5 separate regions of the Homo sapiens genome follow, and all the other regions are linked to region 1. The links come from fine-mapping of genetic effects on gene expression. A gene starts in region 1. Each other region holds a variant in brackets. All regions are shown on one strand. Distances are between the middles of the regions. Region 1 holds the start of CEP152 (centrosomal protein 152). Region 2 overlaps CEP152 (centrosomal protein 152). Region 3 overlaps CEP152 (centrosomal protein 152). Region 4 has its middle 81 kb from the start of FBN1-DT. Region 5 overlaps CEP152 (centrosomal protein 152).

The links. PIP is the estimated chance that this variant, and not a neighbour inherited with it, causes the effect.
Region 2: its variant is fine-mapped to the expression of CEP152 in whole blood (TOPMed, PIP above 0.99).
Region 3: its variant is fine-mapped to the expression of CEP152 in whole blood (TOPMed, PIP above 0.99).
Region 4: its variant is fine-mapped to the expression of CEP152 in monocytes after LPS (Quach 2016, PIP 0.95).
Region 5: its variant is fine-mapped to the expression of CEP152 in whole blood (TOPMed, PIP 0.98).

The regions. Positions count from the first base shown.
Region 1 is chr15:48,808,049-48,813,155 of GRCh38, reverse strand. It overlaps CEP152 (centrosomal protein 152), which reads left to right and starts at 2,087. Exons shown (of 27, transcript NM_001194998.2): 1 at 2,087-2,195. LOC124903487 (a long non-coding RNA gene) reads right to left here and starts at 2,458. Exons shown (of 2, transcript XR_007064626.1): 1 at 2,349-2,458; 2 at 1,247-2,225. RefSeq lists enhancers at 1,658-1,717, 2,376-2,937 and a silencer at 1,893-2,083.
Region 2 is chr15:48,788,556-48,793,662 of GRCh38, reverse strand. It overlaps CEP152 (centrosomal protein 152), which reads left to right. Exons shown (of 27, transcript NM_001194998.2): 7 at 202-342; 8 at 2,287-2,426; 9 at 4,662-4,862. Among named protein-coding and RNA genes, the nearest start is that of CEP152, 20 kb to the left of the region's middle. The variant T/C (reference allele first, on the strand shown) is at 3,145.
Region 3 is chr15:48,752,280-48,757,386 of GRCh38, reverse strand. It overlaps CEP152 (centrosomal protein 152), which reads left to right. Exons shown (of 27, transcript NM_001194998.2): 20 at 834-1,484; 21 at 4,918-5,038. Among named protein-coding and RNA genes, the nearest start is that of CEP152, 56 kb to the left of the region's middle. The variant T/G (reference allele first, on the strand shown) is at 2,253.
Region 4 is chr15:48,724,004-48,729,110 of GRCh38, reverse strand. It overlaps the pseudogene LOC645405 and a transcript of CEP152 not described here. Among named protein-coding and RNA genes, the nearest start is that of FBN1-DT, 81 kb to the right of the region's middle. The variant A/TA (reference allele first, on the strand shown) is at 2,065.
Region 5 is chr15:48,769,209-48,774,315 of GRCh38, reverse strand. CEP152 (centrosomal protein 152) reads left to right here. Exons shown (of 27, transcript NM_001194998.2): 13 at 1,625-1,829. Among named protein-coding and RNA genes, the nearest start is that of CEP152, 39 kb to the left of the region's middle. The variant A/C (reference allele first, on the strand shown) is at 3,084.

The sequences.
Region 1 (5,107 bases):
GCATCTTGTAACTCAGAGTGTTGGTACCTTGAGCATAGGGGTCCTACCCTGCACCTAGGCCAGGACTTAAACAGGATAGGTGGTCAAAGAAATTTAGTTGAATATATCCATAACTCCACCAAAAACCATTTTTAGAGGCATGGCAGGATGGGAGGTTGATTTATTCTTTATTTTCCCTCTTTGTCACGTATATGCTAGTCTCACTAAAATATTTTGTATGTAGTGATGAGCTCTGGGTTTGGAGATAAAGGACCTGGTTTCAGATTCTGTCTGCCTTGTATTAGCTGTGTAGCCTTGGACAAGTCATTTAATTTATTTTTATGTAAGTTTCTTCAACTGGAAAATGGGTAGGAATACCTGTCCTAACCCCCCACAGTGTTGTAGTGAGAACCAAATGAGATGATGCTTGTGAAAGAATTTACCAATCTGTAAAGCACTGTGTAATGGATTATAAACACTGCCTCCTCATGTGCTTACCCTGACACGTTTTATGCTTTCATCCTTCTAAGAAGCAGTTGTTTGTGCATGGGGATCACCTGGCATTCTTGCTGCAGCACTCCATCATAACCCTCAGCACAGAATGCAACATACAGTTTGCCAATCGACTTCAGTGGGATGTGAAAAGTGAAAAGTGCATTTAATTCTCACTAAGATGCCTTGGCTCAGATTCAACAAATGCCATTTACTTGAAGGCCTTTTATTTGCTTTTTCTGCCTGCCCCCCTGCCAAAATCTTCATCTATTTGTTCATTTATTCATTTACTCATTTAACATAATTGTTTTGAGTGCCTACCAGGGTCATGTTAGACACCCAAGAAGTAAAGTGAGTACTTCAAGATATTCACGTTGTACTGAGTGTAAGACACACAAAAACTTACAGTAGATAAAAGAACTATAATAGGATATATAGGATACACTGTGTACAGAGGTAGGAAAGATCATTTTTGCGAAGTGAGGGAGTGTGTGTCATGAAAGGCTTCAAAGGAGGTGCTAGTCTGTCTTCAAAACTAAGTAGCAGGAGAAGGTAGAGGCGATGCAGGTGAAAGAAACAGCTTTCACAGCAGGTGAAAGAAAAAAAGCGCTCTGGGAACCATTGTTAGCTCAGGCTGTGATTTCGTTCATTCTATTACAGTGGGTTAAATTACCTGTTGTTTGCCAAACCCTATACCAGTTTATGGGGTTACAGGGGTCAGTGTAGGCATCATGGGGGCGGACGGTGAAGTAGCAAAGGAAAACCAGCCACAGTATGAAGAGCCTCGAACAACCATTTTACTCCGTGCCAGTACACATGGGAAAGGGTTGAAAGGATATGTGAACCTGCCGCCACCAATTCCTTGATTATTCACTGGAACCCTTTCAGCCAGAGAAGATAGACACAGTACTGGGCTTTACTGAGGACTGGGTGGCGCTGTCTTTAGGGGCAGGTTAATAATATACACCTAAGTGACAAGAACACTCACACCCGAGGAAATTAGAGTAGTAAATAGACACGTGGAAAAATGTGCCATCTTATCAGTAATTAAAGAAGCAAAAATGTAAACAAAGCGGCACCTAGTAAGGTAGAAGACAAAGCAAAATATCTAAGGCTGTTAAATAATGGGGAAGCAGGCGCCTTAGAAAACAAGGGCAAATGTAAAAAACCTCTAAGGCAAGAGTTCGGTGGGGAATCTGCGGGATTCTGTGTGCTGAAGCGCAGGAGGCACGAGTCACCTTTGCAGTCTCCGGTACCAAACGGGCAAGGGGTCCCCGTAAGACTGCTGCACCCTGGCCGAAGGTAGCGGGTGAAGCGCCTCGGCGTCTCTAGGCAACCGATCAGCCCGCCCACTCCGGGGTGACTTCCTCGTAATTGGCTCTCGAATCCACCAATGGGCGCACAGGGGGAGCTTCCCGCCACCTCTGGCGCCCGCTTTCAAACAGCCGTACTTTGCAACTGCAGGTGGACTTCTCAACCAAGCTTGAGGAAGGCGGAGACTTCTGCCTCCTCGCTCTGCCCTGAGCTGGCACGGCTCCGCCCACCGGGCGAGCTTCTAGTCGGCGATTGAAGGATGCGAGTGCTCCTTAAGGGCCTCCGCCCCGTGAGTTCGGTTGTGACTAGGAAGGAGCTAGTGGACTAGAGCCAGGGTAAGGGGATCTGCTAGAAGTTGGTCTTCCGCCAGGACTAGAGTTTCCTCGCGGTAACAGCCTCCGTGGCCTCCGGTAAGTTCTGATTCACGGGTGAGCTTGGACCTGGGGTTAGAGGAGTTGCGGGGTCCTCGGGATGCTGGCTGAGGGTTCCTGGGGGGGCTGACCTGCCCCCTCCCCAAATCCCGCGGTGGTGGACTGCCCGCATGTTGCGGGCTCAGCTTTTACCTTAACGTGTCATTTAGACCTCTTCATTCCTCCAATATCCTACTTAGAAGTGACATATGGGAAGCCCGCCTCGTTTCCAGGCTGCTGGGGTCGCCCTGAGACCCTACTCTGCGGACCCCGCCTTGGTCACCCTGGCGTCACGCCTGGCTCACAGTAGGTGCTCTGTGCACGTGTGTTGACCGAGTACAAGTGACGCTGGCACCCGAAGCCAGTAGCCCCGGGCATCCTGGGCCCCGTGCGGCTTTGGTCATGTTTGTAGTGCCGTAGCTGACGCCAAACAGTTCCTCAAGGTCATTCGCTCAGCCTGTGGATGCTTATTGTGTATTAGCATTACTCGCTCCGCCCTCTGGGCAACTTGAATCAATTTGTCCAAAGTGCTGTTATTAGCACTGATCACAAGATGTTGTGATCATTTGTTTATATGTCTATTTTCTTTCCCTTCATCGTGTCCTGTTAAACTTTGTAATCTTGAACAGTGCTTGGTAAATTGTCGAATGAATGAATAAGGTGTCTCCACCAGGTGTTGCAAGTCTAAACCGGGCTATGTGCTCTGGCTATTTCCATTCTAGAAGGCGAGTTATGTCAGCAAGTAAGTAGAATTTCCCAACTCCAAGTGCAGTTCTTAGAAACCCCTTTTGTGGGGGTTTATAACCCTTCCTATATCGTAGTCATGAACTTGAGTCTGATTTAAGCCTATTATCACCTTATACCTTCATAGTGCGTGACAATGAACATGCACTCCCTAGACAGGTGAATGCACTCAACTAAAGAGAAGCTGAAGTTGAAGCCATAAGAAAAGCATAAGAAATACAGTCTGAAAGTGCAAAGGAGTGGCCAGCTCCATGGGGGAACAGGCTTGGGAGGGCATCTTGAAGGAGGGTGGCATTTTTGTTCCATAGGAGGTTGCATTATTAGAAGTGACATTTCTCATAGGCTGCACATTCACCTTTTCTCAGATATGCGGAATCCTCTTTATTCCCTAAACCTCTTCGGTAGCTGGCAGACTCCTATTCATCAGTAATAATGTCATAATAGTAATAAAACTACAATGTATTGATTGGTACATAGTGCTAATTACTTTACATGTAGTATCTTGTGAATCCTCAGAATCAATCTTTGAAGTAGGTATTATTTTTACCCCCATTTCTTTAACGTAGAAGCAGAAACAGTTTGCTCAAGATTGCACTGCTGATAAATAGAAGAGCCAGAATTGAGCCCAGGTTGTCTGAATGAGTGCCCTCATTCTTAGAACCACTTATAGCCATATTGTGTCCTTTAAGATTTATTTCTAATCTAAAAGCTCTTTTTTTTCTGTAAAACTTCTCTAAACTATCCTTTCTTCTTAGGAAAAGTAATTTGTGCTTTGTACTTTCATCTACTACGGAATTTATTACAATATGTTATTGTAACTGTTTATATCAGTGGCTCTATCTAAGAGAGGGTGAGCAGAGACAGTGAGCTCCTCATGGCTGGTACCATGTCTTAGGTGCATCTAGGATATGATCTGGAACACAGTGGGTATTCAATAAAATTTTATTGAAGTAATGAATTCGTATAAGGTAACATGCCTATATCATATTCAGTCAACAAATATTTGTTATGTACCCACCATGTGCAAGCAGGCAGATACATTTTAATTCTGCCTTCAGGGTGCTTATAGTTTATTAGATGAAGCAAAAACAATGCTACTTTTGCTTTGTAATCTTTTGTCCAAATACCCATTGCTTTTGTTGCAAGGAGGGCAGAGAAAACAACCGGGGACAACAAAAGGAATGCTGGGTCAGAGCATCCATCTGAGTGTAACAACAAGACATACTTTTTATAGTCTTGTTAAGGGTTCAGAAAAAGTTATCTAGGAAGAAAGTCTACCAGACTGCTATTGAAGAAGAAAACCAAAACATACTGTATACTTAATCTGCATCTTGATTTCTCAAGTGGTCAGCCTTGAGTCAATAGATATAGAAAATTTTCAGTATTTTTACTAGTGGCATAGTATTGACAAATTAATTCAAAATAATTTTACTAGTGTAAATGTTAATTTTCAATATATTAATATTGATAGTTTTCAAGATGGTTTAGCAGTTGATATTTTCACCAGCAACTCATGAGCCATACAAAATACAAAATAGTCACCACTGGGTGATAACAAGTTTTTTTTTTGTTTGTTTGTTTTTTCAATCTAGTGGTTGAAAATGGCATATTGTTTAAATGACACTTCTTTGAAACATCACGAGCTTAAGCATCTTTTCAAACTAATTGATTTACACTTTTTAAAATAAATTGTCATGTCAGTCGCCCAATTTTATATTGGATTGTCTTTTTCTCATTTCTTTGTAATAATTTTATATTGGGACTTTGTCAGGTGCTTTGCAAATTTTTTTTATTCTTATTTTTCTTGACTTTGTTATTGATGTATTTTTTCATATATAATATTTGACTCGTTAATGATGTCTTTTGCCTTAAACAAAATTTTATTTTTTGTGGTTAGGTTTCCATCACATTTTTCTTTATGGCTTTTGGATTTACTATCTTGCTATTTTTTTTTTTTAAAGAAGTCTCTTTTGTTGTTCTGAATATTATACTAAAGTCTCTGGTAGCAGTGATAATGAGTGGTGATTAATAAGTTAAGGTATTAGCTTTTATTTTAAGTCTCATTTAAAATATGTATTACCTTTTTACTATATATATTTTTAACCACATTAAGTTGATCAGGTTTCCCTTTATGTCTGAAATCATTTCTTAAAGTCTTTTATAGTTTA
Region 2 (5,107 bases), 19 kb after region 1:
TTCACAAAATAAGACTGTTTCTTACTACATGATGCACTCTGATATATTCTCTCTCTCTTTTTTAATCCTAGTCACAATTCACTGAATTGATTTCATGATGCTCTAAAAGGTTGTAGTCACAGTTTGAAAAACACTGCTTTAAATGACTATAAATTTATATTTTGGTATGTTTTTATCTAATAAATTGTCTTTAATTCCCAGACTCTGCAGAAAATATGCAGATTATTCAACTTCAGGTTCTTAACAAAGCAAAAGAGAGACAACTGGAGAACTTAATTGAAAAGTTAAATGAAAGTGAACGTCAAATTCGATATCTGAATCACCAGCTTGTAATAATAAAAGGTAAGATGCTGGATGCTGTCATTTATGAGGTACACTGAGTTAGATATCTTGTTTCCAATAACCTCAGATTACATACGAAGCTTAGAGAGTAAAAACACTTGGTCAGAGGGCTCATAGTGAGTGAGGCATAGCAAAACAAAACCCAGGATTTCTGAGTGTTGGCCTTGGATTACTTCTCTTTGGAACACGCTGTTTTGGAGACCAGGCATGGTGGCTTACGCCTGTAATCCCAGCACTTTGGGAGGCTGAGGTGGGCGGATCACTTGAGATCAGGAGTTCAAAACCAGCCTGGCCAACATGGTGAAACCCTGTCTCTACTAAAAATACAAAAATTAGCGGGGCATAGTGGCAGGCACCTGTAATCCCATCTACTTGGGAGGCTGAAGCAGGAGAAGGAGAATCACCTGAACCTGCAGGCGGAGGTTGCAGTGAGCCGAGAAAGCGCCATTGCACTTCAGGCTGGGTGACAGAGTGAGACTCTGTCTCAAAAAAAAAAAAAAGACACTCTATTTTGGAGTCCCTATATTTTCCCTTTTCTCACTTAGGCTTTTAGAATCATTGAACATTATTTAACTGTACTGATGGCATTCTGTCCTAAAAAGTTGTTGATTCCTTATGTCTGATTCCTTATGTCATTACTCTGGATGAAGTATTCCAGCTTTCAGAGTGATTTGTGTTTAGTTTGCACTGCAGCGTTTCCTGAGGCTACAAATTAGCATAAACGTTTTAATCCAAATAAGAGTTAGTGATTGTGAAGTGCCATGTCTGGGATAAACACACAGAGTAAATACAGATTCAAATTATAATTGCTTACTCCTTGTGCTTTCTCTAGTTTTGGTCCACGTTGAACTTTCATTTGCAGAATACTTTTGTGATTGAACTCTAGCTCATTTCAAATTTAATTGATGGTAAAAATGTCTCTTTCTGTAATGCTCATAACATTTATTTTGAGAGAAGAACTTGTGAGCTGTTATAGCAAAGTATGTGGGAAGAATTTAACATTAGGTGAATTTAAGAGTTCATTCCAAGTGGGTCGGGCACGGTGGCTCACTCCTGTAATCCCGGCACTTTGGGAGGTCAAGGAGGGCGGGTCACGCGGTCAGGAGATCGAGATCATCCTGGCTAACATGGTGAAACCCCATCTCTACTAAAAATACAAAAAATTAGCTGGGTGTGTGGTGGCGCCAGTAGTCCCAGCTACTCAGGAGGCTGAGGCAGGAGAATGGCGTGAACCTGGGAGGCGGAGCTTGCAGTGAGCCGAGATTGCACCTCTGCCCTCCAGCTTGGCGACAGAGCGAAACTCCGTTTCAAAAAAAAGAGTTCATTGCAAGTATGTGTAGGATAATTAGTCCTCAGATAACTTCTTTGATTAGCAGGGATTTGTCCCCAAAAGGGATGCAATAATAGTTTTAAAGGAAGTAGTTCTGCTTCTCTAAAAAAATTTTTTTGGTATCAGGTTTGTTTTTTTTTTTAATTTTTAATTTTTAATAATTTATTTATTTGGGGCTGGGTGAGGTGGCTCACGCCTGTAATCCCAGCACTTTGGGAGGCCAAGGTGGGTGGATCACTTGAGGTTAGGAGTTCGAGACTAGCCTGGCCAATATAGTGAAACCCCATCTCTACTAAAAATATAAAAATTATCTGGGAGTGGTGGCAGGTGCCTGTAATCCCAGCTACTGGGGAGGCTGAGGTTGTAGTGAGCCAAGATTATACCACTGTACTCCAGCCTGGGCGACGGAGTGAGACGCTGTCTCAAAATAAATAAATAAGTAAGTAAGTAAATTCTTTATTTAGTTTTCTCTAAATCAACTAAAGTTCATTTTTCTGAATTAAATTTAATTCAACAACATTTATATATGATACAGACGTGACATCTGATTGGGATTGTGACATTGGGGTCCCTCTACAGGAACATTATTTATATAAACATTTTTAATACCGTAGATGAAAAGGATGGTTTGACTCTCAGCCTTCGAGAATCACAGAAACTCTTTCAGAATGGAAAAGAAAGAGAGATACAGCTTGAAGCTCAAATAAAAGCACTGGAGACTCAGATACAAGCATTAAAAGTCAATGAAGAACAGGTACCTATTTTAACTTATGTATGGTAAAAAAATTAAAAGTTTAGTTATTTAACAAAACTTTTTGTAGGGTAGGACTAAATTTAGAAGAACTTTGAAGTTATTGACAAAGCATTAGAACTTAAATTTCCTGACTGCAATAGTTTGCTTCAGAATTGGTATCCCGAGAAGCTTTTATTTTTATTTTTCCTGCTGCTTCTCCATTTGGAGAACTGTTTTTTAAACTTGAGTTTAAAGTGGTGACACATTCACATTCTTTGATTAATGAGATAGCCATTTGATTTTTGGAAATAGTCATAAGTCATTGGTAGCTAAGCCTGGTGGTGGTTGATTCATTTTTTGGCAGGGGGCAGGGTTAAAAATGAAAGTGATGGCCGGATGCAGTGGCTCACGCCTGTAATCCCAGCACTTTGGGAAGCCGAGGCGGTCGAATCACCTGAGGTCAGGAGTTTGAGACCAGCCTGGCCAACATTGTGAAACCCCGTCTCTATTAAAAAGTACAAAAATTAGCTGGGCGTGGTGGCAGATGCCTGTAATCCCAGCTACTCTGGAGGCTGAGACAGCAGAATCGCTTGAACCCAGGAGGCGGAGGTTGCAGTGAGCTGAGATTGCTCCATTGCACTCCAGCCTGGGGGACGAGAGCGAGACTTGTCTGAAGAAAAAAAAAATGAAAGTGACTATGAAATAATGAGCTTGGTTTTGAGTGAGACTTGTAGCTAAG[T/C]CTGAGGATGGTTTAATGAAAGAGTTTAAACAGTGTTGTCTCATGTCTGGCTTCTCCTCATCCTTCAGGTCTTAGCTAAAAACAATTACCTTTTCAGAGGACTTGCTATTCACTTTATATGTAAGGTAGCCCATAGCTCCATCCTCCAACTCACCTTCATCATGCCATATTCTATTACTCTATAACTATCTGAAATGATCTCATTTGTTTACTTGTTATTTATTGTCTCTTCCCACTAGAAAGTAGTAAGAGCTTAGACCTTTTCTGTTTGGTCATTATGTCCTTAGTGCTTAGAACCCTGCCTGGCACAAATGATCTGTGTCATTCAGTGGATGGATCTCTTAGCCATGAAAGCAGTATTGGAATAAATAGGCAATCTCTGGAATAGAATGAAGAATAATTCTCTTGAAATTTTAATTTTTGTATGTAATGTAGATTATTTTTAACTTTTTGAAAACCAATAGTTATTAGATTAAAAAGTTAAGTTGCCTTTATGTAGTAAAAGGTTATAACTTTGTAATCTTTTTTATGTAAGCAGCAGAATCACCAAGTGTATTAGTTTCCTATTGCTGCTGTAACAGATGACCACAAATTCAGTGGTTTAAAACAATACAAATTTATCTCACAGTTCTGGAGGTCAGAAGTCTGACATGGATCTCACTAGGCTAAAATCAGGGTGTCAACAAGGCTGCATTGCTTTCCGGAGGCTTTAGGGGAGAATCCATTTTCTTGCTATTTCCAACTTCTAGAGGCCACCTGTGTTCCTTAGCTTGTGGCCCATTTCCATCTTCAAAGCCAGCAATGAATGGCTGATTGAGTCTCTCTGGTTCTGACTTTTCTGCCTTAGTTTTTCTCATTTATGGACCCTGTGGTTACATTGGGCCCACCTGGATAATCCAGGCTACTCACCTTATTTTAAGGCAATCTAATTAGCCATATTAATTCCACATACAATCTTAATTTTCCCTTGCCATGTAATATAACTGATTCACAGGTTTTGGGGATTAGGACACGGTCATTTTGGAGGGCTATGATTTTGCCTACAATACCAACTGTGCAGTTACAGCTTTGAAAACTTTGTTTTTAGTAAGTGACCATTGGCAGGTTTCATCAGTCTTTCAAGGAACAGTTGTCATTTTTCTGTGACCTAACAATTGGGTTACCCCACACTTTGGTCATAGAGCAATGCAAACAGCACTGGGGCCATCACGGCATCAGCAGATTCCGTGCCTGATAGCCACATCCATCATGCTGCGCAAAATCCTCTTTCACTCCCCTCAGGTATCTACCAAATGTATTTTCTCAGGGAACATTGTTTCCAACAACTATGGGCCTGGAGGGTCCCAGCTAGGGTTGTTTTAAGGAGCTTGAGCCATGATGAGCGGAGACCCCTTCTCTACTCTCATTAAAACATGCTTGAGTTTTATTTTATAGTAAAAGTAAAAGTTTATAGACAGCACAGAGCTAAAATACTCTGTGTATATTTTAAACATGGATATCCTGTGTGTATTTACTAGATGATCAAGAAGTCCAGAACAACTGAAATGGCTCTGGAAAGCTTGAAGCAGCAGCTGGTGGACCTTCATCATTCTGAATCACTTCAACGAGCTAGAGAACAGCATGAGAGCATTGTTATGGGCCTCACAAAGAAGTACGAAGAGCAAGTATTGTCCTTACAAAAGAATTTGGATGCCACAGTCACCGCACTTAAAGAACAGGTTGGGATGATTTCAAATGAGCAACTGTTATCAACAAGTAAAGCTGGTTATGTTTTGTAACTGATATTTTATGGTTCATCATATAGAAGTCTTGGATGTTTGTAGTAAATGTTAGATTGTGTGTGAGGTGAGTGAAACTTAAAAGCCAGTGATATTGGCTGGACGCAATGGCTCACGCCTGTAATCCCAGTACTTTGGGAGGCCAAGGCAGGCGGATCACCTGAGGTCAGGAGTTCAAGATCAGC
Region 3 (5,107 bases), 56 kb after region 1:
AATGGATTATGTCCTTATGTCATTTAATCCTAAAGGATGCTATCAAATTGGCATTGTAATTATCCCCATTTTATAGATGAGGAAATTGAGGCTCAAAGAAGTTGAGGAATGGGCCTTTAGTTCTTCAGCTGGTAAGTTAATTCCAGCAGTTTGTCTCCAGATTCTGTTCTGTTAAGCATCTGTGCTAGGCTTCCTCTGCAAATTGGTGTCAGGATTGGAGCTTAGGTTTTTTGATTTCGCTATTACTTTTTAGTTATGTACTACCTGTTTTTTTCTGTGATCCACTAGTTCTATTATTCTGTCATACAAACAAATTAGACTAATGAAAAATGACTTTTTCTGTTTGGTATTGTCCTTTAATGAACTGTTCTAGCCACTAAAAGTGCATTAAAATACAGTTACACTTATCAGCAAGTAATTATGCAGGTGTGTGCTATATTCCTAAGTAATAGTAAAAAATCCTTATGAGTCCGCTTTTGCTTTAGGTAAAAGATACTTAATTTGTTGGGGGCACAGATAAAATTTGAGATTGTATCTGTATTAAGAAAAGTAATATGAAATTTTTTCTCACATTAGTTTTGGCTAATTATATAATTATATGTGTGAGTGTTTATGTGTCTATACATACATATAAACATATTTATGTATATATTTTGACCAATTTTAGTGTAAGTATAGTTTTTAGAATAATGTCTTATCTAAAATCATGTTTCCTTTTAATTTTGATTTTACATTTCCTAGCTTCAGAGGTTAACCAAAATAGTTACCTTAATTTTTTTGCGAAGGAGGAGAATCATAAAGACTTTCAAAATGCATGTTGTTATGTTCTTTAGATATCATTTGCTGTTTCTGAAGCTAAAGAGAAATGGAAGAGTGAGCTTGAAAATATGAGGAAAAATATACTTCCTGGAAAGGAATTGGAAGAGAAGATTCATTCTCTTCAGAAGGAACTTGAGTTAAAGAACGAAGAAGTCCCTGTGGTCATCAGGGCTGAGTTAGCTAAGGCTCGGAGTGAATGGAACAAAGAAAAGCAAGAAGAAATCCACAGAATCCAAGAACAAAATGAGCAAGATTACCGGCAATTTTTAGATGATCACCGAAATAAAATTAATGAGGTGCTTGCGGCAGCTAAAGAAGACTTTATGAAACAAAAAACTGAACTACTTCTTCAGAAGGAGACAGAATTACAAACTTGTCTAGACCAGAGTCGTAGAGAATGGACTATGCAGGAAGCCAAGCGGATCCAACTGGAAATCTATCAGTATGAGGAAGACATCCTGACTGTACTTGGGGTTCTTTTAAGTGATACCCAAAAGGAGCACATCAGTGATTCTGAGGACAAGCAGCTTTTGGAAATCATGTCGACTTGTTCTTCAAAATGGATGTCTGTGCAATATTTTGAAAAACTAAAGGGCTGCATACAGAAAGCATTTCAAGATACACTTCCTCTGCTTGTAGAAAACGCTGACCCAGAATGGAAAAAGGTATGTTCCTGAGAGTGAGAGAAGGTATTGAACACCAAGAATGATTATAGAAGTTGTATATAGTGTTTTTTCCTTTTTTCCTTTTAAATTTTAGTAGATGTAAGTCTTATGTTTTTGTCAGTGGTTTAAAAAAGTTTCTGTAGCGAAATCCAAAGGTTTGCATGTTTCGTTGCCAAAAAACTTTACTACTTCATAGTGTCACAAATACAAGACAAGATTTTAGCCTCTAAATATCTTTTTCCTAAAGAATATTTAGGACAAATACCTAATGCATGCGGGGCCTAAAACCTAGATGACAGGTTGATAGGTGCAGCAAACCACCATGGCACATGTATACCTATGTAGTAAACCTTCACGTTCAGCACATGTATCCCAGAACTTAAAATAAAATAAAGAATATATGCTGTTCTTTCTAAGGGCCTGAGATTTCAGAAACTGAAAATTTTTTTTTCAAAATTCTGTTTTCTGGGCCTGACCACTTCATGAAATATGCATAATAAGAGTTTCTTAAAAGCTTGTAAAGAGTTTGGAAGCCTATTTATTGCCCTCAATAAATTTATGTCTCATTTAGGCAAAAAAATGCCAACCAAGTACAAAGGTATTGATATAGAAACAAGCAAATAAATACGACTCACTCGCATAAAACTCTGAAGCCCAGTTTCTGGATGTACTATATATGTGCATATAGAATTAATTATATTCTTTTAGTTATATAAGTACTCTCTGAGACCAGCTTTTAATTTGTATGAAAGTTTCAGTAAAACCAAA[T/G]TCTTGCTACCTTATGATCAAAGCAATTAGGTATGCATGAAAGATCCAGAATGATATTCTGAGCATGGTGATTAGCCAATTTCAACATTTGGGATTAGAGGCAGGAAAAAAAAAAAAGCCAGTATTATAAGGTTTGTCTAATAGAGTTGAGACTTAAGAGTGAAGTTCCATCAAAATATTGTGATTAAGGAGTTTCAAGGCCAGGATTGAGCATTTGGTATTAATACCTACTTGGGAGAGTTATAAACTAGAAAAAATAACCTTGAGTTTCAGTTCCATATTCGATGATAACTAGATTATTATATTGGGCAATCACATAGTTGCTCACTGGAAAAATAAAATACAAATCCCCGGCCTAATTCCTTGGGTTTGGGTAGGATATGCATGGCACAGCTTAGCCTTTCTGGGTCCTGCATTTGAAACAGTATAGAATTTTAGAGCCAGAAGGGACCTGAAAGATCAGCTCACTCCATCCTACTTCACCCCAGTTGATATTTTTATCCTTGACCTCACAAAGATGTTGCTACCGAGTAGTTGCCTTCAATGTAAAATTTACTGGGCAAGATCACTTCCCATGAATACTGCTTCACACTTAATTGAGATTTTTTGGAGAAAATAATTAAAATAACTTGGAGAAAACATATAATTAAAAAATTATAGCAGATTTGGAGATGAGAAATGATGGGAAAATCATGTTTACATGCTTTCGTTTGTAAGCATGTTTCGATTTTTATAACAGTTATAAAATCTGTTATAAAAATCAAGAAACTATGACACCTTTCTCCTACCATTAATATATACATATAAAATCAACCCTGGAGTCTTTTTACAGGGCTTATAATTGTGCAAGCAGTATAAGATCATCTGTGTGACTTAATGAGGCTCATAAGTCTATGGAGACAGAATCACATAATCTGGCTAAGAATTTAGATGTTTACGGCTTTTGTTGGGTGGGTCAGATTCCATTCCTGAGAAAAGGATGGCTTTGAAATGCCTAATCTGGAATTTGTCATAGAAGTAATACTTGACCTTCTGCCATTTTCGAGCTATCTTCACTCAGGACCTTGAGGTAAAGCTATGATTATAGAGCAGTGATTTTAAATTTGTTACATAGGTGCTGTAAATGTGAGGAACTATAATTTATAATTTATTAACTCTCTAGTTTTAAAAATTGTTCATGGAAATTAAAACAAAAGATGGTTTATTAATATATAAAAACAAGTCCTCATTAAAATAACTGAGACAATCAAAAGTTTTTTTAAATGGAGAGGATGCAATGAATGAAAAATATAGCTTTCAAGAAAATGAATGCCATATCAAAATATATTAATACAGTAGTTCATAACAGATAAAACAAATATCAAATGGAACAAAATTTTCAAGCAAACTTAAGGATGTATGTTGTCTCTTTTACCATCAAAGTCAAGTTAAAACTGAGACAAAAAGGTTGTTGCTTTTCTCCCTTTTCTGTTATCTTGACTTTTCTTCCCCAGTTTTGAGTAAAAACTGGAAGCACTGACTGCATTTTGGTTCAGCTTTTCCTACTCCTTTTGACCTCAAACCCATAGCTTCTTGATTGCCTCTTCTCTATAATTGCTAACCTCTGCTTCTGTTGGACATTGTAAGTAGGTTTTCTGACAGTCAATTAAGTGGTTTCTCATAATCAAAATCAAGGCTTCTAGAATCAGGCATATATAGTATGTTTTAAATAATCAGTAAGACTACTTTCTCCATACCACCTATTCTGTTCCTTTCCGATTTAGTAGTCATCTTAAATCTGAAAACATTACCATAAAAATCCATTGATTTGGCTGAGCGTGGTGGCTCACACCTGTAATCCCAGTACTTTGGGAGGCCAAAGCAGGCGGATCACGAGGGTTGAGGCAGGAGAATCGCTTGAACTGGGAGGTGGAGGTTGCAGTGAGCTGAGATCGCGCCAATGCCCTTCAGCCTGGCCGATAGAGGAGGACTCCATCTCAAAACAAAAACCAAAAATGAAAAATCCATTGATTTAGTAGCTGTATTGCTGTGACAAGGACTGGAACATAAAAACGTTCAATAAATATTAGTGAAGAAATGGTCTTGTGCAAGATGTTTAATTTAGCTAAGCCTCAGTTTCTGTCCTTAACTTTGGCATTCAGCTGGCCTTCCTTACAAAATTACTGTGTATGTTAAAGTATTTAGAAGCATATGAAGTACTATATAAATTTAAAATGATTTTTAACTGTTATTTTCAATTCATAGGAGGCAGAGGGTTAGCATTATACTTGCTAATTAACTTGTTCCTTGCTGTAGTAAAAATGTTCTAGATTTTCAAGAACAATTCTGATTTTATATTGTCTTTCATGTGGTTTAATCACGTAAACCATTGAAAAATCTCAAATTCACATATATAATGTGCAAACCATATCTTCTGTCTGTCTCATAGCTGCCCACCAGTCGCCTGTCAGACAGTGTTCTTATTTGGAAAGTTTCATAGGAAGCTAGTTCCTAGTACAGTGACAGTACTTATATAACACCCTAAGAAAAATATTGGCGATAGATAGTTCAGGCAAGATTTTTTTCAGGTAGTGTTTTCTCTTTGTATTTTTAATATTAGCATTTTAAATATAAAATTGTATAAAGATTTTTACTAAGCATTAACTTTGAAGATACTTTATTTCAGAGAAATATGGCCGAGCTCTCTAAGGATTCTGCCAGCCAGGGCACTGGCCAAGGAGACCCTGGACCTGCTGCTGGACACCATGCTCAGCCCTTGGCCTTACAAGCAACAGAAGCAGAAGCTGGTAATTGGATTTTGTTCCCACCAGTCTTTGTAGCATCCATAATCACCCATCTGAAGGGTTGCTTTGAGG
Region 4 (5,107 bases), 84 kb after region 1:
CATTAAACAAATATTTATGAGGTGTCAACAACTGATTGTTAATGTTCTAGGGTGATACAATGCTTATCAAAACATGAGTTTCTACCTTCATGGTTCACACTCTAGTCAGGGGAGACAGTAAATACACATAACTTATGTAGTATGTTAGAAGTTGGTAAGTGCTATGGAGAAAATAAGGGCAGGTAAGGGTAAAAAGAGGAGTAAAGAGGGAGTGGTTACAAATTTAAATAGAATAGTGAGGGTTGGTCACGCTGAGATGGTAACATTTGGGTAAAGATTAGAAGGAAGCCACTCTAACTCCACCATTCCTTCTGTTTCCTGCTTCTGGAACTTCTCTTAGACATAGCCCCATCCTCGTTTCTCTTCATTGTTCTTTTGTATACTTTTATTTTTCTGTGCTACTTTGTGGAGGTCTTTTTTCACTGGAAGTACTATCTTCCAGTTTGCTAATTCTGTCTTTGTTTGTTTAATTTATTGAGTTTTGAAATTTCACTTCCGGGATTTCTAGTTGGTGTTTTTACACCTAGACTTTTTGTAAAATTTCTACCTGTTTAGTAATCTTGTTTTCTAATAGATTCTATGTATTTATATTTTTAAAGACTAAGAAATTCTTAAAGTTACTTCTAGAGTAATTTATCATGTCACTTGGGAGTGAGTTCATATCCAAATTGTTGCTTTTTGTTTGTTTGTTTTTGCCTTACACAGAATTAGTTTCCCCCACGCGTGTGGAATTTTGGCTTGCAGTCTAACTTGCAGTCTAACAGTGAAGAAGATTTTTTTTCTCCTTCTGAGTTCTCTCCCACCACTGTCTAGTTCTTTTGGTTGCCTCCATATGGGCTCCATATAGTACCCAGTCCAAGACTGGGTCTTACATAGGTGATTTCTGATCTAGTGGGGCTATTCTAAAGCTAGTCACTGAGCCAGCAGGCAGCTTGGCCCAGTTCCTGGCTGCAAAGCTCTGCCTTTAACCTCTAGGCTCTCTAGATACATAGTTTTAATATAACTTGTGGCCTCAGGTGGAGAGTGTAGCTTTTTCAGCCTCCCTGAGGTAAGGAACCCCTACCTGGACTACTGCTTTAGACAGCAAGCTTGTCCTTTGTTCCTTTCCTCAGTTGGATGCTTTTAGTCCTTATTATTCTGCAGAAACTCCTGGCCACCTTTACTACTTTTGGTTTTTTTTTTTTTTAAGCCGAGTCTCACTGTGTCGCCCAGGCTGGAGTGCAGTGACGCAGTCTTGGCTCACTGCAATCTCCACCTCCAGGTTCAAGCGATTCTCCTGCCTCAGCCTCCTGAGTGGCTGGGACTACAGACACGCACCACCACTCCTGGCTAATTTTTGTATTTTTAGTAGAGATGGGGTTTCACCATATTGGCCAGGCTGGTCTCGAACTCCTGACCTCAAGTGATCCACCCACCTCAGCCTCCCAAAGTGCTAGGATTACAGGCATGAGCCACCGTACCAGGCCTACCTTTACTACATTTAGATACAGAACAGGTAGTACCTTACTTTTCAAGTCCTCAGGGACATTTTGTGTTTTAAAAGTCTTTTTTCTCTATATACTTTTTCCATCATTGTTATATGTTGGTAGATGTTGGGTCCTTCCAAAGTGTAAACTTAGAATGCCATCAAGGACCTAAAGTCTGCTTTGTCATTAGCTCTGTGTCTTAGCTGTTTCTGTAGCCTGTCTGGGCCTCAGTGTTTGCTATTATTAAGGTTTAGGCATATGATTACCTAAAGATTCAGGTAAACCAGATTTAAAAGTATGTGAAGGCCGGGCGCGGTGGCTCACGCCTGTAATCCCAGCACTTTGGGAGACTGAGGCGGGCCCATCACCTGAGGTCAGGAGTTCAAGACCAGCCTAGTCAACATGGTGAAACCCCGTTTCTACTAAAAATACAAAAATTAGACAGGTGTGGTGGTGGGCGCCTATAATCCCAGCTACTCGGGAGGCTGAGGCAGGAGAATTGCTTGAACCTGGGGGGCAGAGGTTGCAGTGAGCCGAGATTGTGCCATTGCACTCCAGCCTGGATAAAAAAGCGAAACTCCCTCTAAAAAAAAAAAAA[A/TA]ATAAATAATAAAAAAAAAAGAGTACATGAAGAATAGTGAGATAGGTAAATTGAGGCTAGATCATGATCATGGATGGTCTTGGATGTCAAAGCCAAAGAATTCGAAATTTGGTTCATAGAAAAGGGAGAGTTGTTGAAGTTTTGGTAGCATGATTTAGAGAGATTAGGGAAGCCATATAATAGGAGGACTTGGAGGAACAGAGCAAACAGCCAAGGAACCAGGAGGACAATGTCCAAGGACAGTCAGGCAAGGAACAAGGCCAGAGCCAGGGTAGATGTGGTGGAAATGAAGAGGTGACAAGATTGAGAATATGACACACCCATGCTTCCAGGACCTACTGAGAAGGGATTTAGAGCCTGGGTGTTTGTGAAGATGACTCTGCTATCAACAGTACTGGAGAATCAAGACAGGGTGGATTGAAGGGACCATGCTCTCCCTTGAGTACTGAAGTGCACAGTCCTTTGGTGGGCACAGTCATGAGAACAACTAATTTACAGATGCTAACTTGATGATGAGCATTGTGCCAAGCACTTCACTAACTCCTTTAATCCTCACAACAGCTTTTTGAGTGAGGCTCTGTATAAGCACTTTATGGTTGGCTAAAATCAAGGCTTAGAGAAGATAAGTAATTTGTTCATGGTTAACACAAGCTTGCAGCAGGCAAAGCCAAAAGTTATACCCAAGTCTTTTTTTTTTTTTTTTTTGTCTATGAAGTATGTATTATTTTGGCAAGTGATTTTTTCCTTCCTAAGAATAAGATGAACATGTCCAAATGTTACCTGTGCCAACTTCACAGATACAGAAGTATCTAGTCTTCATTTCCTCAATGCCCCAATTAGATGGTTCTAGTAAACGAATCAATATAGTTAAAAAAAAAAAATACAGGTTCAACAAAAGAGCACCATCCTATTAGGGAACTGAGTAACATGTGAAAATGAAGTTGTCATTATAATCAAAATGTTGCCCAAATTCTAACAAACCCAAGCTGTTATACTAGTACATGGACGCAGTCCATAGTGTTAACCTAAAGAACTCTGGGACAAGAACATTATTTGAAAAATAAACTCCAAAATTATACCTGTAATAAATGGTGAGACAGACCAATTTTAAAGCACAAGTGACATGTTACACTGTATTGCTTCTTGAACTTTCCAAACAATGCTTGTCCATGTCAGGTTTGGGCCATTCTCCTGCTAAGACAGAGAGCATTGTATTTATTCAAAAGCCCAGATTTCAATATCTTGGATAAAGAAATCTTCCTTCTTAGAAAGTGTACGATTCCCAAACGTTTTACAAGAATGGCTTCTTGCATGGTAGAGATCTCCATCAAGCCAAAGGGCAAATTCTCCTCCTCCACCACCGAAAGCTAGTGAATCCATGTCTCCTTTGATAAAAAACATGTTATCTCCTGTCCACTTAAAGACCTCAAACTCTGGACAGAATGTAAAAACAAAGGTCTCTCCAGTACCATAAAAGCCATCACTCACTTTAAATGGCTCAGCTGCTAACGCACCAAAAACCTGTCCATCACTGTCTTTAATTACCATCAGCACTGGGGTGTCTAAACCTGTCATTGTTCGATAAAGAGTTTTCAAGCAAGCTTGTGCCATGTTTTCCAGTACCATAAACAAGAGTCCGTGGATAGCCAATTGTTCTTGGTGGAAGATGCTTGGTAAGCTTTTCAATTTGATCTGGCAGTAAACTTTTCATTTGAGAATAGGTTTAGGTTTACCAAAAAGTTGCAAAGATATACAGAGTCTCTATACCTCTCACCCAGACTCCTCTGTTGTTAATGTCTTACATCACTATGGTAACTTTTTCACAACTAAGGAACCAACATTACATTTAAATATAGATGTATTTTTTTTTTCTTGTGACGCTAGAGGCCATGGCTTTAATCCCTATACTGTCTTTATTTGGTTTGGCTTACAGGTGAGCTGGAATTTATTTTAAAGGGGAAAGTCCTTTTCTTTTTCCGCTCCTTCCACTTCCCCTCCATGCTTCCAAGCAGGAAAATGAGTTCAGCAGGCTCCTCCACATGTGAAATCAGTTTAACTTGCTTTCTCAGCAGGATGTAGACGAGCAATAGATCTTGCTCTTTAGCAGGGATTTATAGAATATGACATTATATGAAGATTATGCTGCAGCTAGAAATTTACCAACACAACAGGAAAGCCTGTAATATTATAGAACCACCTTTTGTAATTTTAAAATTCAACGAGTAATGGTTCATCTTAAAAGAAAAAAGATATTTAGAAATTTTCTAGTAGTAAATATGCGATTTTTAAATCTCTTGATATAATTGTAACAACTTTTCCCCTTAAGGACCAGACCAGGAAATTAATTAGAAATCAAAATAGTAAAACATCATTAAATAGAAACTTTGTTATTTTCGAAAGTAAGATAAATGAATTGGCTTCTTCCACAAAGGTCAGCAATAATTTGGAAACTTTGAGAACATGTTAAATCTTGTGCTCTTAAAAATGTTGTCTGATGAGTAAATTAAGTAGAATCAACAAAACTTTTAAAACTTATTTTTGGTTTTGGTTCAGGCATAGCCCTTGTCTGAAATATTTCCTCATTTCATTTCATAATTTTATCAATCATGTTGTATATAGAATGTACTGGATGAAATTCTGCTTCTTATATTTTCTTGACCCTGTGCTCTTACACAAACTGTTTCCCTAGGAACGGTTAATAAAAATTGAAACACCCTATTTCACCCTATTCAATAAAAGTTGAAATATCCTATCTGTGTAAGAGCACAGGGTGAACTCAATACATGTATTATCACAGTGACCCTGTAGCTGTCAATGATTTCATTGGCTACCAATTAGTTTTCCTGGAAAAGTTTTTAAAAATGTAGTCCAGTGTCGCAATCTACTCTGAAAGGTCTTCAAGATTATTCATTAAACATGACAATGGATCAGTTATCATATTAAGCCCTATACCTACACTTTTGTCTTAATCCTTCCAACAATTTTTCAAACTAGGTCTTATTATCCTCATTCTATAGATGAGAAAGAAGGGAAGGAACTTATG
Region 5 (5,107 bases), 39 kb after region 1:
CCATTATTTTTTCAAATATGTTTTCCATCCCTCTCCTCTTCTGGGAGTTCAGTTACACATGTTGGAAAATGTAATATGTTCTGTGTATTTCTGTTTTAGTCTTTTTTATCTTTGTTTTTAATTATATAGTTTTATTTCTATATCTATGTGTTCACTGATCTTTTCTTCTGCAGTTTTAAATATGCTATTAACCCCATCCAGTATATTTTACATTTCAGATATTATAATTTTTTCTATAAGTTTAATTTGAGTCTTTTCTGTATCTTCCATTTTCCTCCACATATTCATATCTTCCTTAACCTTCTAGAACATATGAAATATATTAATTCTATTGTCTGTGTCATTGATGGGTTAGTTTCTATTGATTGGTTTTTCTCCTGGTATGGTTCATATTTTTTTCCTACTTCTTTCTATGCCTGATAAATTTTGATTGAATGCTAGACATTTTGAATTTTGTTTTGGATGCCAGATATTACTGTATTTTTAAAAATACTGTTGTACTTTTTCTGTGACACACAAGTTACTTGGAATCAGTTTGATCCTTTCAAGGCTTTCTTTATAGGCTTTACTACATCAGGTTTAGAAAAGGCTTTAATCTGGGGCTAATTTTGCCCCACTACTAAGGTATTATTTGATGCCCTTTAAATTAGGAAGTCTTTGCATTATGGCTCATTGAAACATAACATATTCCCAGCCTTATTCATTTCCTATGTTTTTTTCCCTAGCCACTCATACAGAACAGATCTCCAGAGCTCTTTTTCTGTGCAGCTTCTTTTTCCCCAGTATTTCTTCCCTTCATATTCTAGCCACTCTGGACTCCCCAAATTCTGAATTCTTTCTCTGAAACTCAGTGAGATTACTGGGCTCTGTTTGGGTTTCACCTCCCTGTGCTATGGCCTGGACACTCTCCAGGCAGAAAGCTGGGGTAATCTTAGAGCTCACCTTGTTTGCTTTCCTTTTCTCAGGAATCCCTGGCCTGTGCTGCCTGTTGTCTAGTGATTGAAAACTATTATTTTATTTGCTTTATTTGGTTTGCTAGTTTTTTAAGGAGGAAGATAAAGGTTAGTCTTGTTAATTCATTACGGCAAGGAAGCAGATAATCTCTCAATCTTTAAATTTATTGAAACTAAAATTGGGTTTAAATTAGCATGGTTTTATTTTTGTGTTTTTCTAGTTACTCAGATATTCACCCAGACTTGTGTTTTAGTAAGTTGAAAAAAATAACAGAAATTGTTGGTTAGGATGGCTAGTGTTTAGTATTCTTTTCTTCCTTAATATTTATGTTGTTTCTGTTAGAGTCATAAAGGGCATGTATATACAGCATGCAGTTTTCCAATAACACAAATGTAAATTATGTCAAAGTTCACATTTCTAAGCTACTTACAGTGAGCAGCAGGACTAAGCTTGAGAAGGCTCTTCCTGTGAATAAACGTATTTCTGTATATAGAGACATGGCAAAGGTGATAATCCTTGTGTATGACAACATTTAAAATTGTTTTGAAATACTAGTATATAATTGTATAGGTGACAAAACATGTTCACCACTGTGGTCAGTGCTTTTAGGGAATAACCATGTCTGATTTATTACTTGATTTAATGTTAAAAATCACAATTTCTCCATTAGCATTGTACAAGAAGAAGACCCAAATGAAGAGCTTTCAAAAGATGAGTTCATTCTGAAGTTAAAGGCAGAAGTACAGCGTTTGCTGGGTAGCAACTCAATGAAGCGTCATCTGGTGTCTCAGTTACAAAATGACCTCAAAGACTGTCATAAGAAAATTGAAGATCTCCACCAAGTGAAGAAGGATGAAAAAAGCATTGAGGTTGAGGTATGTAAAGCCTATAGAGTTAAAAAACCATTTTTAAAAGGCTCAATAAAGAAAACTTTTACACTTTTTTTTTTTTGAGACAGGGCGTCACTCTGTCTTCCAGGCTGGAGGGCAGTGGTGGAAACATGGCTCCCTGTAGCCTCAACCTCCCAGGCTAAAGCGATGCTCCCACCTCAGCCTCCTGAGTAGCTGGGACCACAGGCGCACGCCACTATGCCTGGCTAATTTTTAAATTTTTTGTAGAGACAGGTTCCCACAATGTTGCCCAGGCTGGTCTCAAACTCCTGGGCTCAAGCAATCCTCCCACCTCAATCTCTCAAGGTGTTGGATTACAGGTGTGACTAACCACATCCAGCCCTTTTACATGTTTTTAAATTAATAAACCTTTGGCTTTCAGGAGTTTATTTGACATTTTTAGAAATAAAGTTTAAAGAAGGAAATGCCATTTTTAAAGGGATACTGACAGTCCCTGACTTAGGATGGTTTGACTTACAATTTTTAGACTTTACAGTGGTGGAAAAGTTATGTGCATTCAGTAGAAACCATATTTCAAGTACCTGTAAAACAGTTCTGTTTTTTACTTTCAGTACAGTGTTCAATAAATTTCATGAGATATTCAACAGTTTATTATAAATGAAGCTTTGCATTAGATGACTTTGCATAACTGTTGGCTATTATAAGTGTTCTGAGCACATTTAAGGTAGGCCAGGCTAAGCTATGGTTTTAATAGGTTAGATGCATTAAATGCATTTTTGACTTAATGATATTTTCAACTTATAATGATTTTATTAGGTGATAAACCCATTGTAAGTTGAAAAGCATCTGTATGTTTTTTCTGGTTACTCTTGGCACCTAGTAAATGAGATACCAATTAGGTAAAATTCCTTTACCATAAATACAAGGAAGTATTCTCTGTAACAAGGAATCTGCATTTCTTTAAGATTGGCTTTTACCAATAGTGCTCTAAAATCTAGTTAAAATAAATCCTCCATAGAAATCCTGTAGTATTTTCTATGAGATTTTCCTGGCCCATGTTCTTACAACAAAAGTCATTCTATATGAGGACATTAATTATATAGTGATGATGGTACAGATATTATATAGTGGTCGTGGTACTATGGGAAAGTACACAAAATCTGGTTTTGTCAGTCATTGAAATCCACCTCTGTATTCTTCAGTTCGGAAAATGAAGCTGGAGCACTTTGTGACACTTTTGAATTTACAGAGCCAATTTCAGACAAATTGAAACTAAAC[A/C]CATGACTAATAAGTAAGTCAAAGATATTTCTGTAAGATCATGCTATCACAGAGATCTTTAGGGCTGCTCTCCTTTATAGATCCTTTTTTTTACCCTTCCATATTTCACAAATCATCAGCCATCTATACTCCCAATAGAAAATAATATATAAAACACCTAATAACTAAGAAAAGCAAAAGAAGAGGGAAAAGGAATGTGGGTAGTATACTCCTTTTCCTCCTGGGTGGAGATAATTGTTTACTTCCTTCTTTAGTACTGTTTTATCTCCTATTTAAACTAGGAGTTGTGTTCATTAGAACAGTTCTGCTAAAGTATGTATAATATTCTGTGCTAATTATTGTGGAATTTTGATTGTGGTTAATTTTTATATTTTGGAAAAACAGTGTTTTTGCTATCAAAATCTTTTCCAGCCTGATTCCCTCTTCTGAGTAACTACATTTGATGACTAAAACATAGATTTTAATATTAACAGCAAATGAGAGAGACTCCTCCCCGCCCTGCCCCCTGCACATTTAACATCTTTAAATCAAGCTGTTTTCATTGTTGCCCTACATTTCTTTAAAAGGATGGGAATGAAAGCTTGTTTCTCAATTTGCATTAAGACATTAGAGTTTATTAGTTTAAGCATTTTGGTGGGAGTGCTCTAGGATTTAGGATACTAGAAACCTGATTTTGAGTCTGAACCTTAGCTCAGATATCTTGGTGCTTTCTTTGTTCTGTATTAAACTTGCTAATGGCATTTGCTATACAGATACACTTTATCATGTGTAGCAGTAGATAGTGGTCATGCATTGTACTGTTTTTTAGCCTTCCCATTTTCCTCTGTAGTCTGGTTGATCAATAGATCAAAGGAATAACTATCTCATCTTTGAGTATTCTTTTTGTCCAGCTACTCTATTGCCATAGTGAATTCTCGGTAGTGTACATCTAAACTCCAATTTTTCTCAAAGTTACTTCAGCTGTGGACTCAAGTGATCTGCCCACCTCCACCTCCCAAAGTGCTCGGATTACAAGGATGAGCCACTGTGTTGTGGCAAAGAGCTCAGAGTCCAGGTACACAACAAGTGAAACGGAGTAGATATATTTTTAAAATCTTTGTAACCCCCATCAATGAATAAAAAGAAAAGTAGATAAGGAAAACTCTCAGAGGAAAATATGCAAAGTTAAATGAACAGATAAATCTGGGAAGGTGGAAAAACAAATGAACAATGAAGGTATATAAGAGGTTCCACTTTGGTGGTGACACAAGAAATACAAATGAAAGCAATTGTTAGATATTCTTTTCCCATCAAAGATAATTATTTAAAGATAATCACTGCCATTGGAGGCAAAGAGAGATGGGCAGACCCATGTACTACCTGACAGTATACATTTGGATGACATTTCTGGAAGGCAATTCGCCAAAGTCTATCATGAGTCTTAAAAATTGTATGTATTGAATAAAATATATGTCCGTGAGTGAATGCTGACATAAATGAATACATACAGAAATAGAATAAATGCTTGATCTTAGTAGGAGAACATATGATGAGAAATAGGATATTTGTATTGTCTCAAAGTATCCTATAAGATACTTATCATTTATTATAAAACAAAAAATAGTAAGTTTACAATGGAGATGACAGATCCCACCTTCAATTGATTATTACCAGTGGTGAGACATAGTGATATCATGTGTCTCCTGCAAAGAGCACATATCAGTTCTTGACATGCATGCCAAAGATGCATAACCTGATTTTAATAAACCTAAAAACTCCAAATTGAGGAACATCCCACAAAATAACGGGTTAGTATTCTTAGAAAACATCATGGGTTTGAAAGACTGAAGAGCTGTCCTAGATTGGAGGAGACTAATGAAACATGACAACTAAATGCCACTCAGAATCATGGATTTGATCTTGGACCAGAAAACAGACATTTGGGGCAAATTGGAGACATTTGTATAAGGTCTGTAGATTACTTGATAGTATTGCATCTGTGTTAATTTACTAGTTTTGATGATTGTGCTGTAGTTATATTGGGG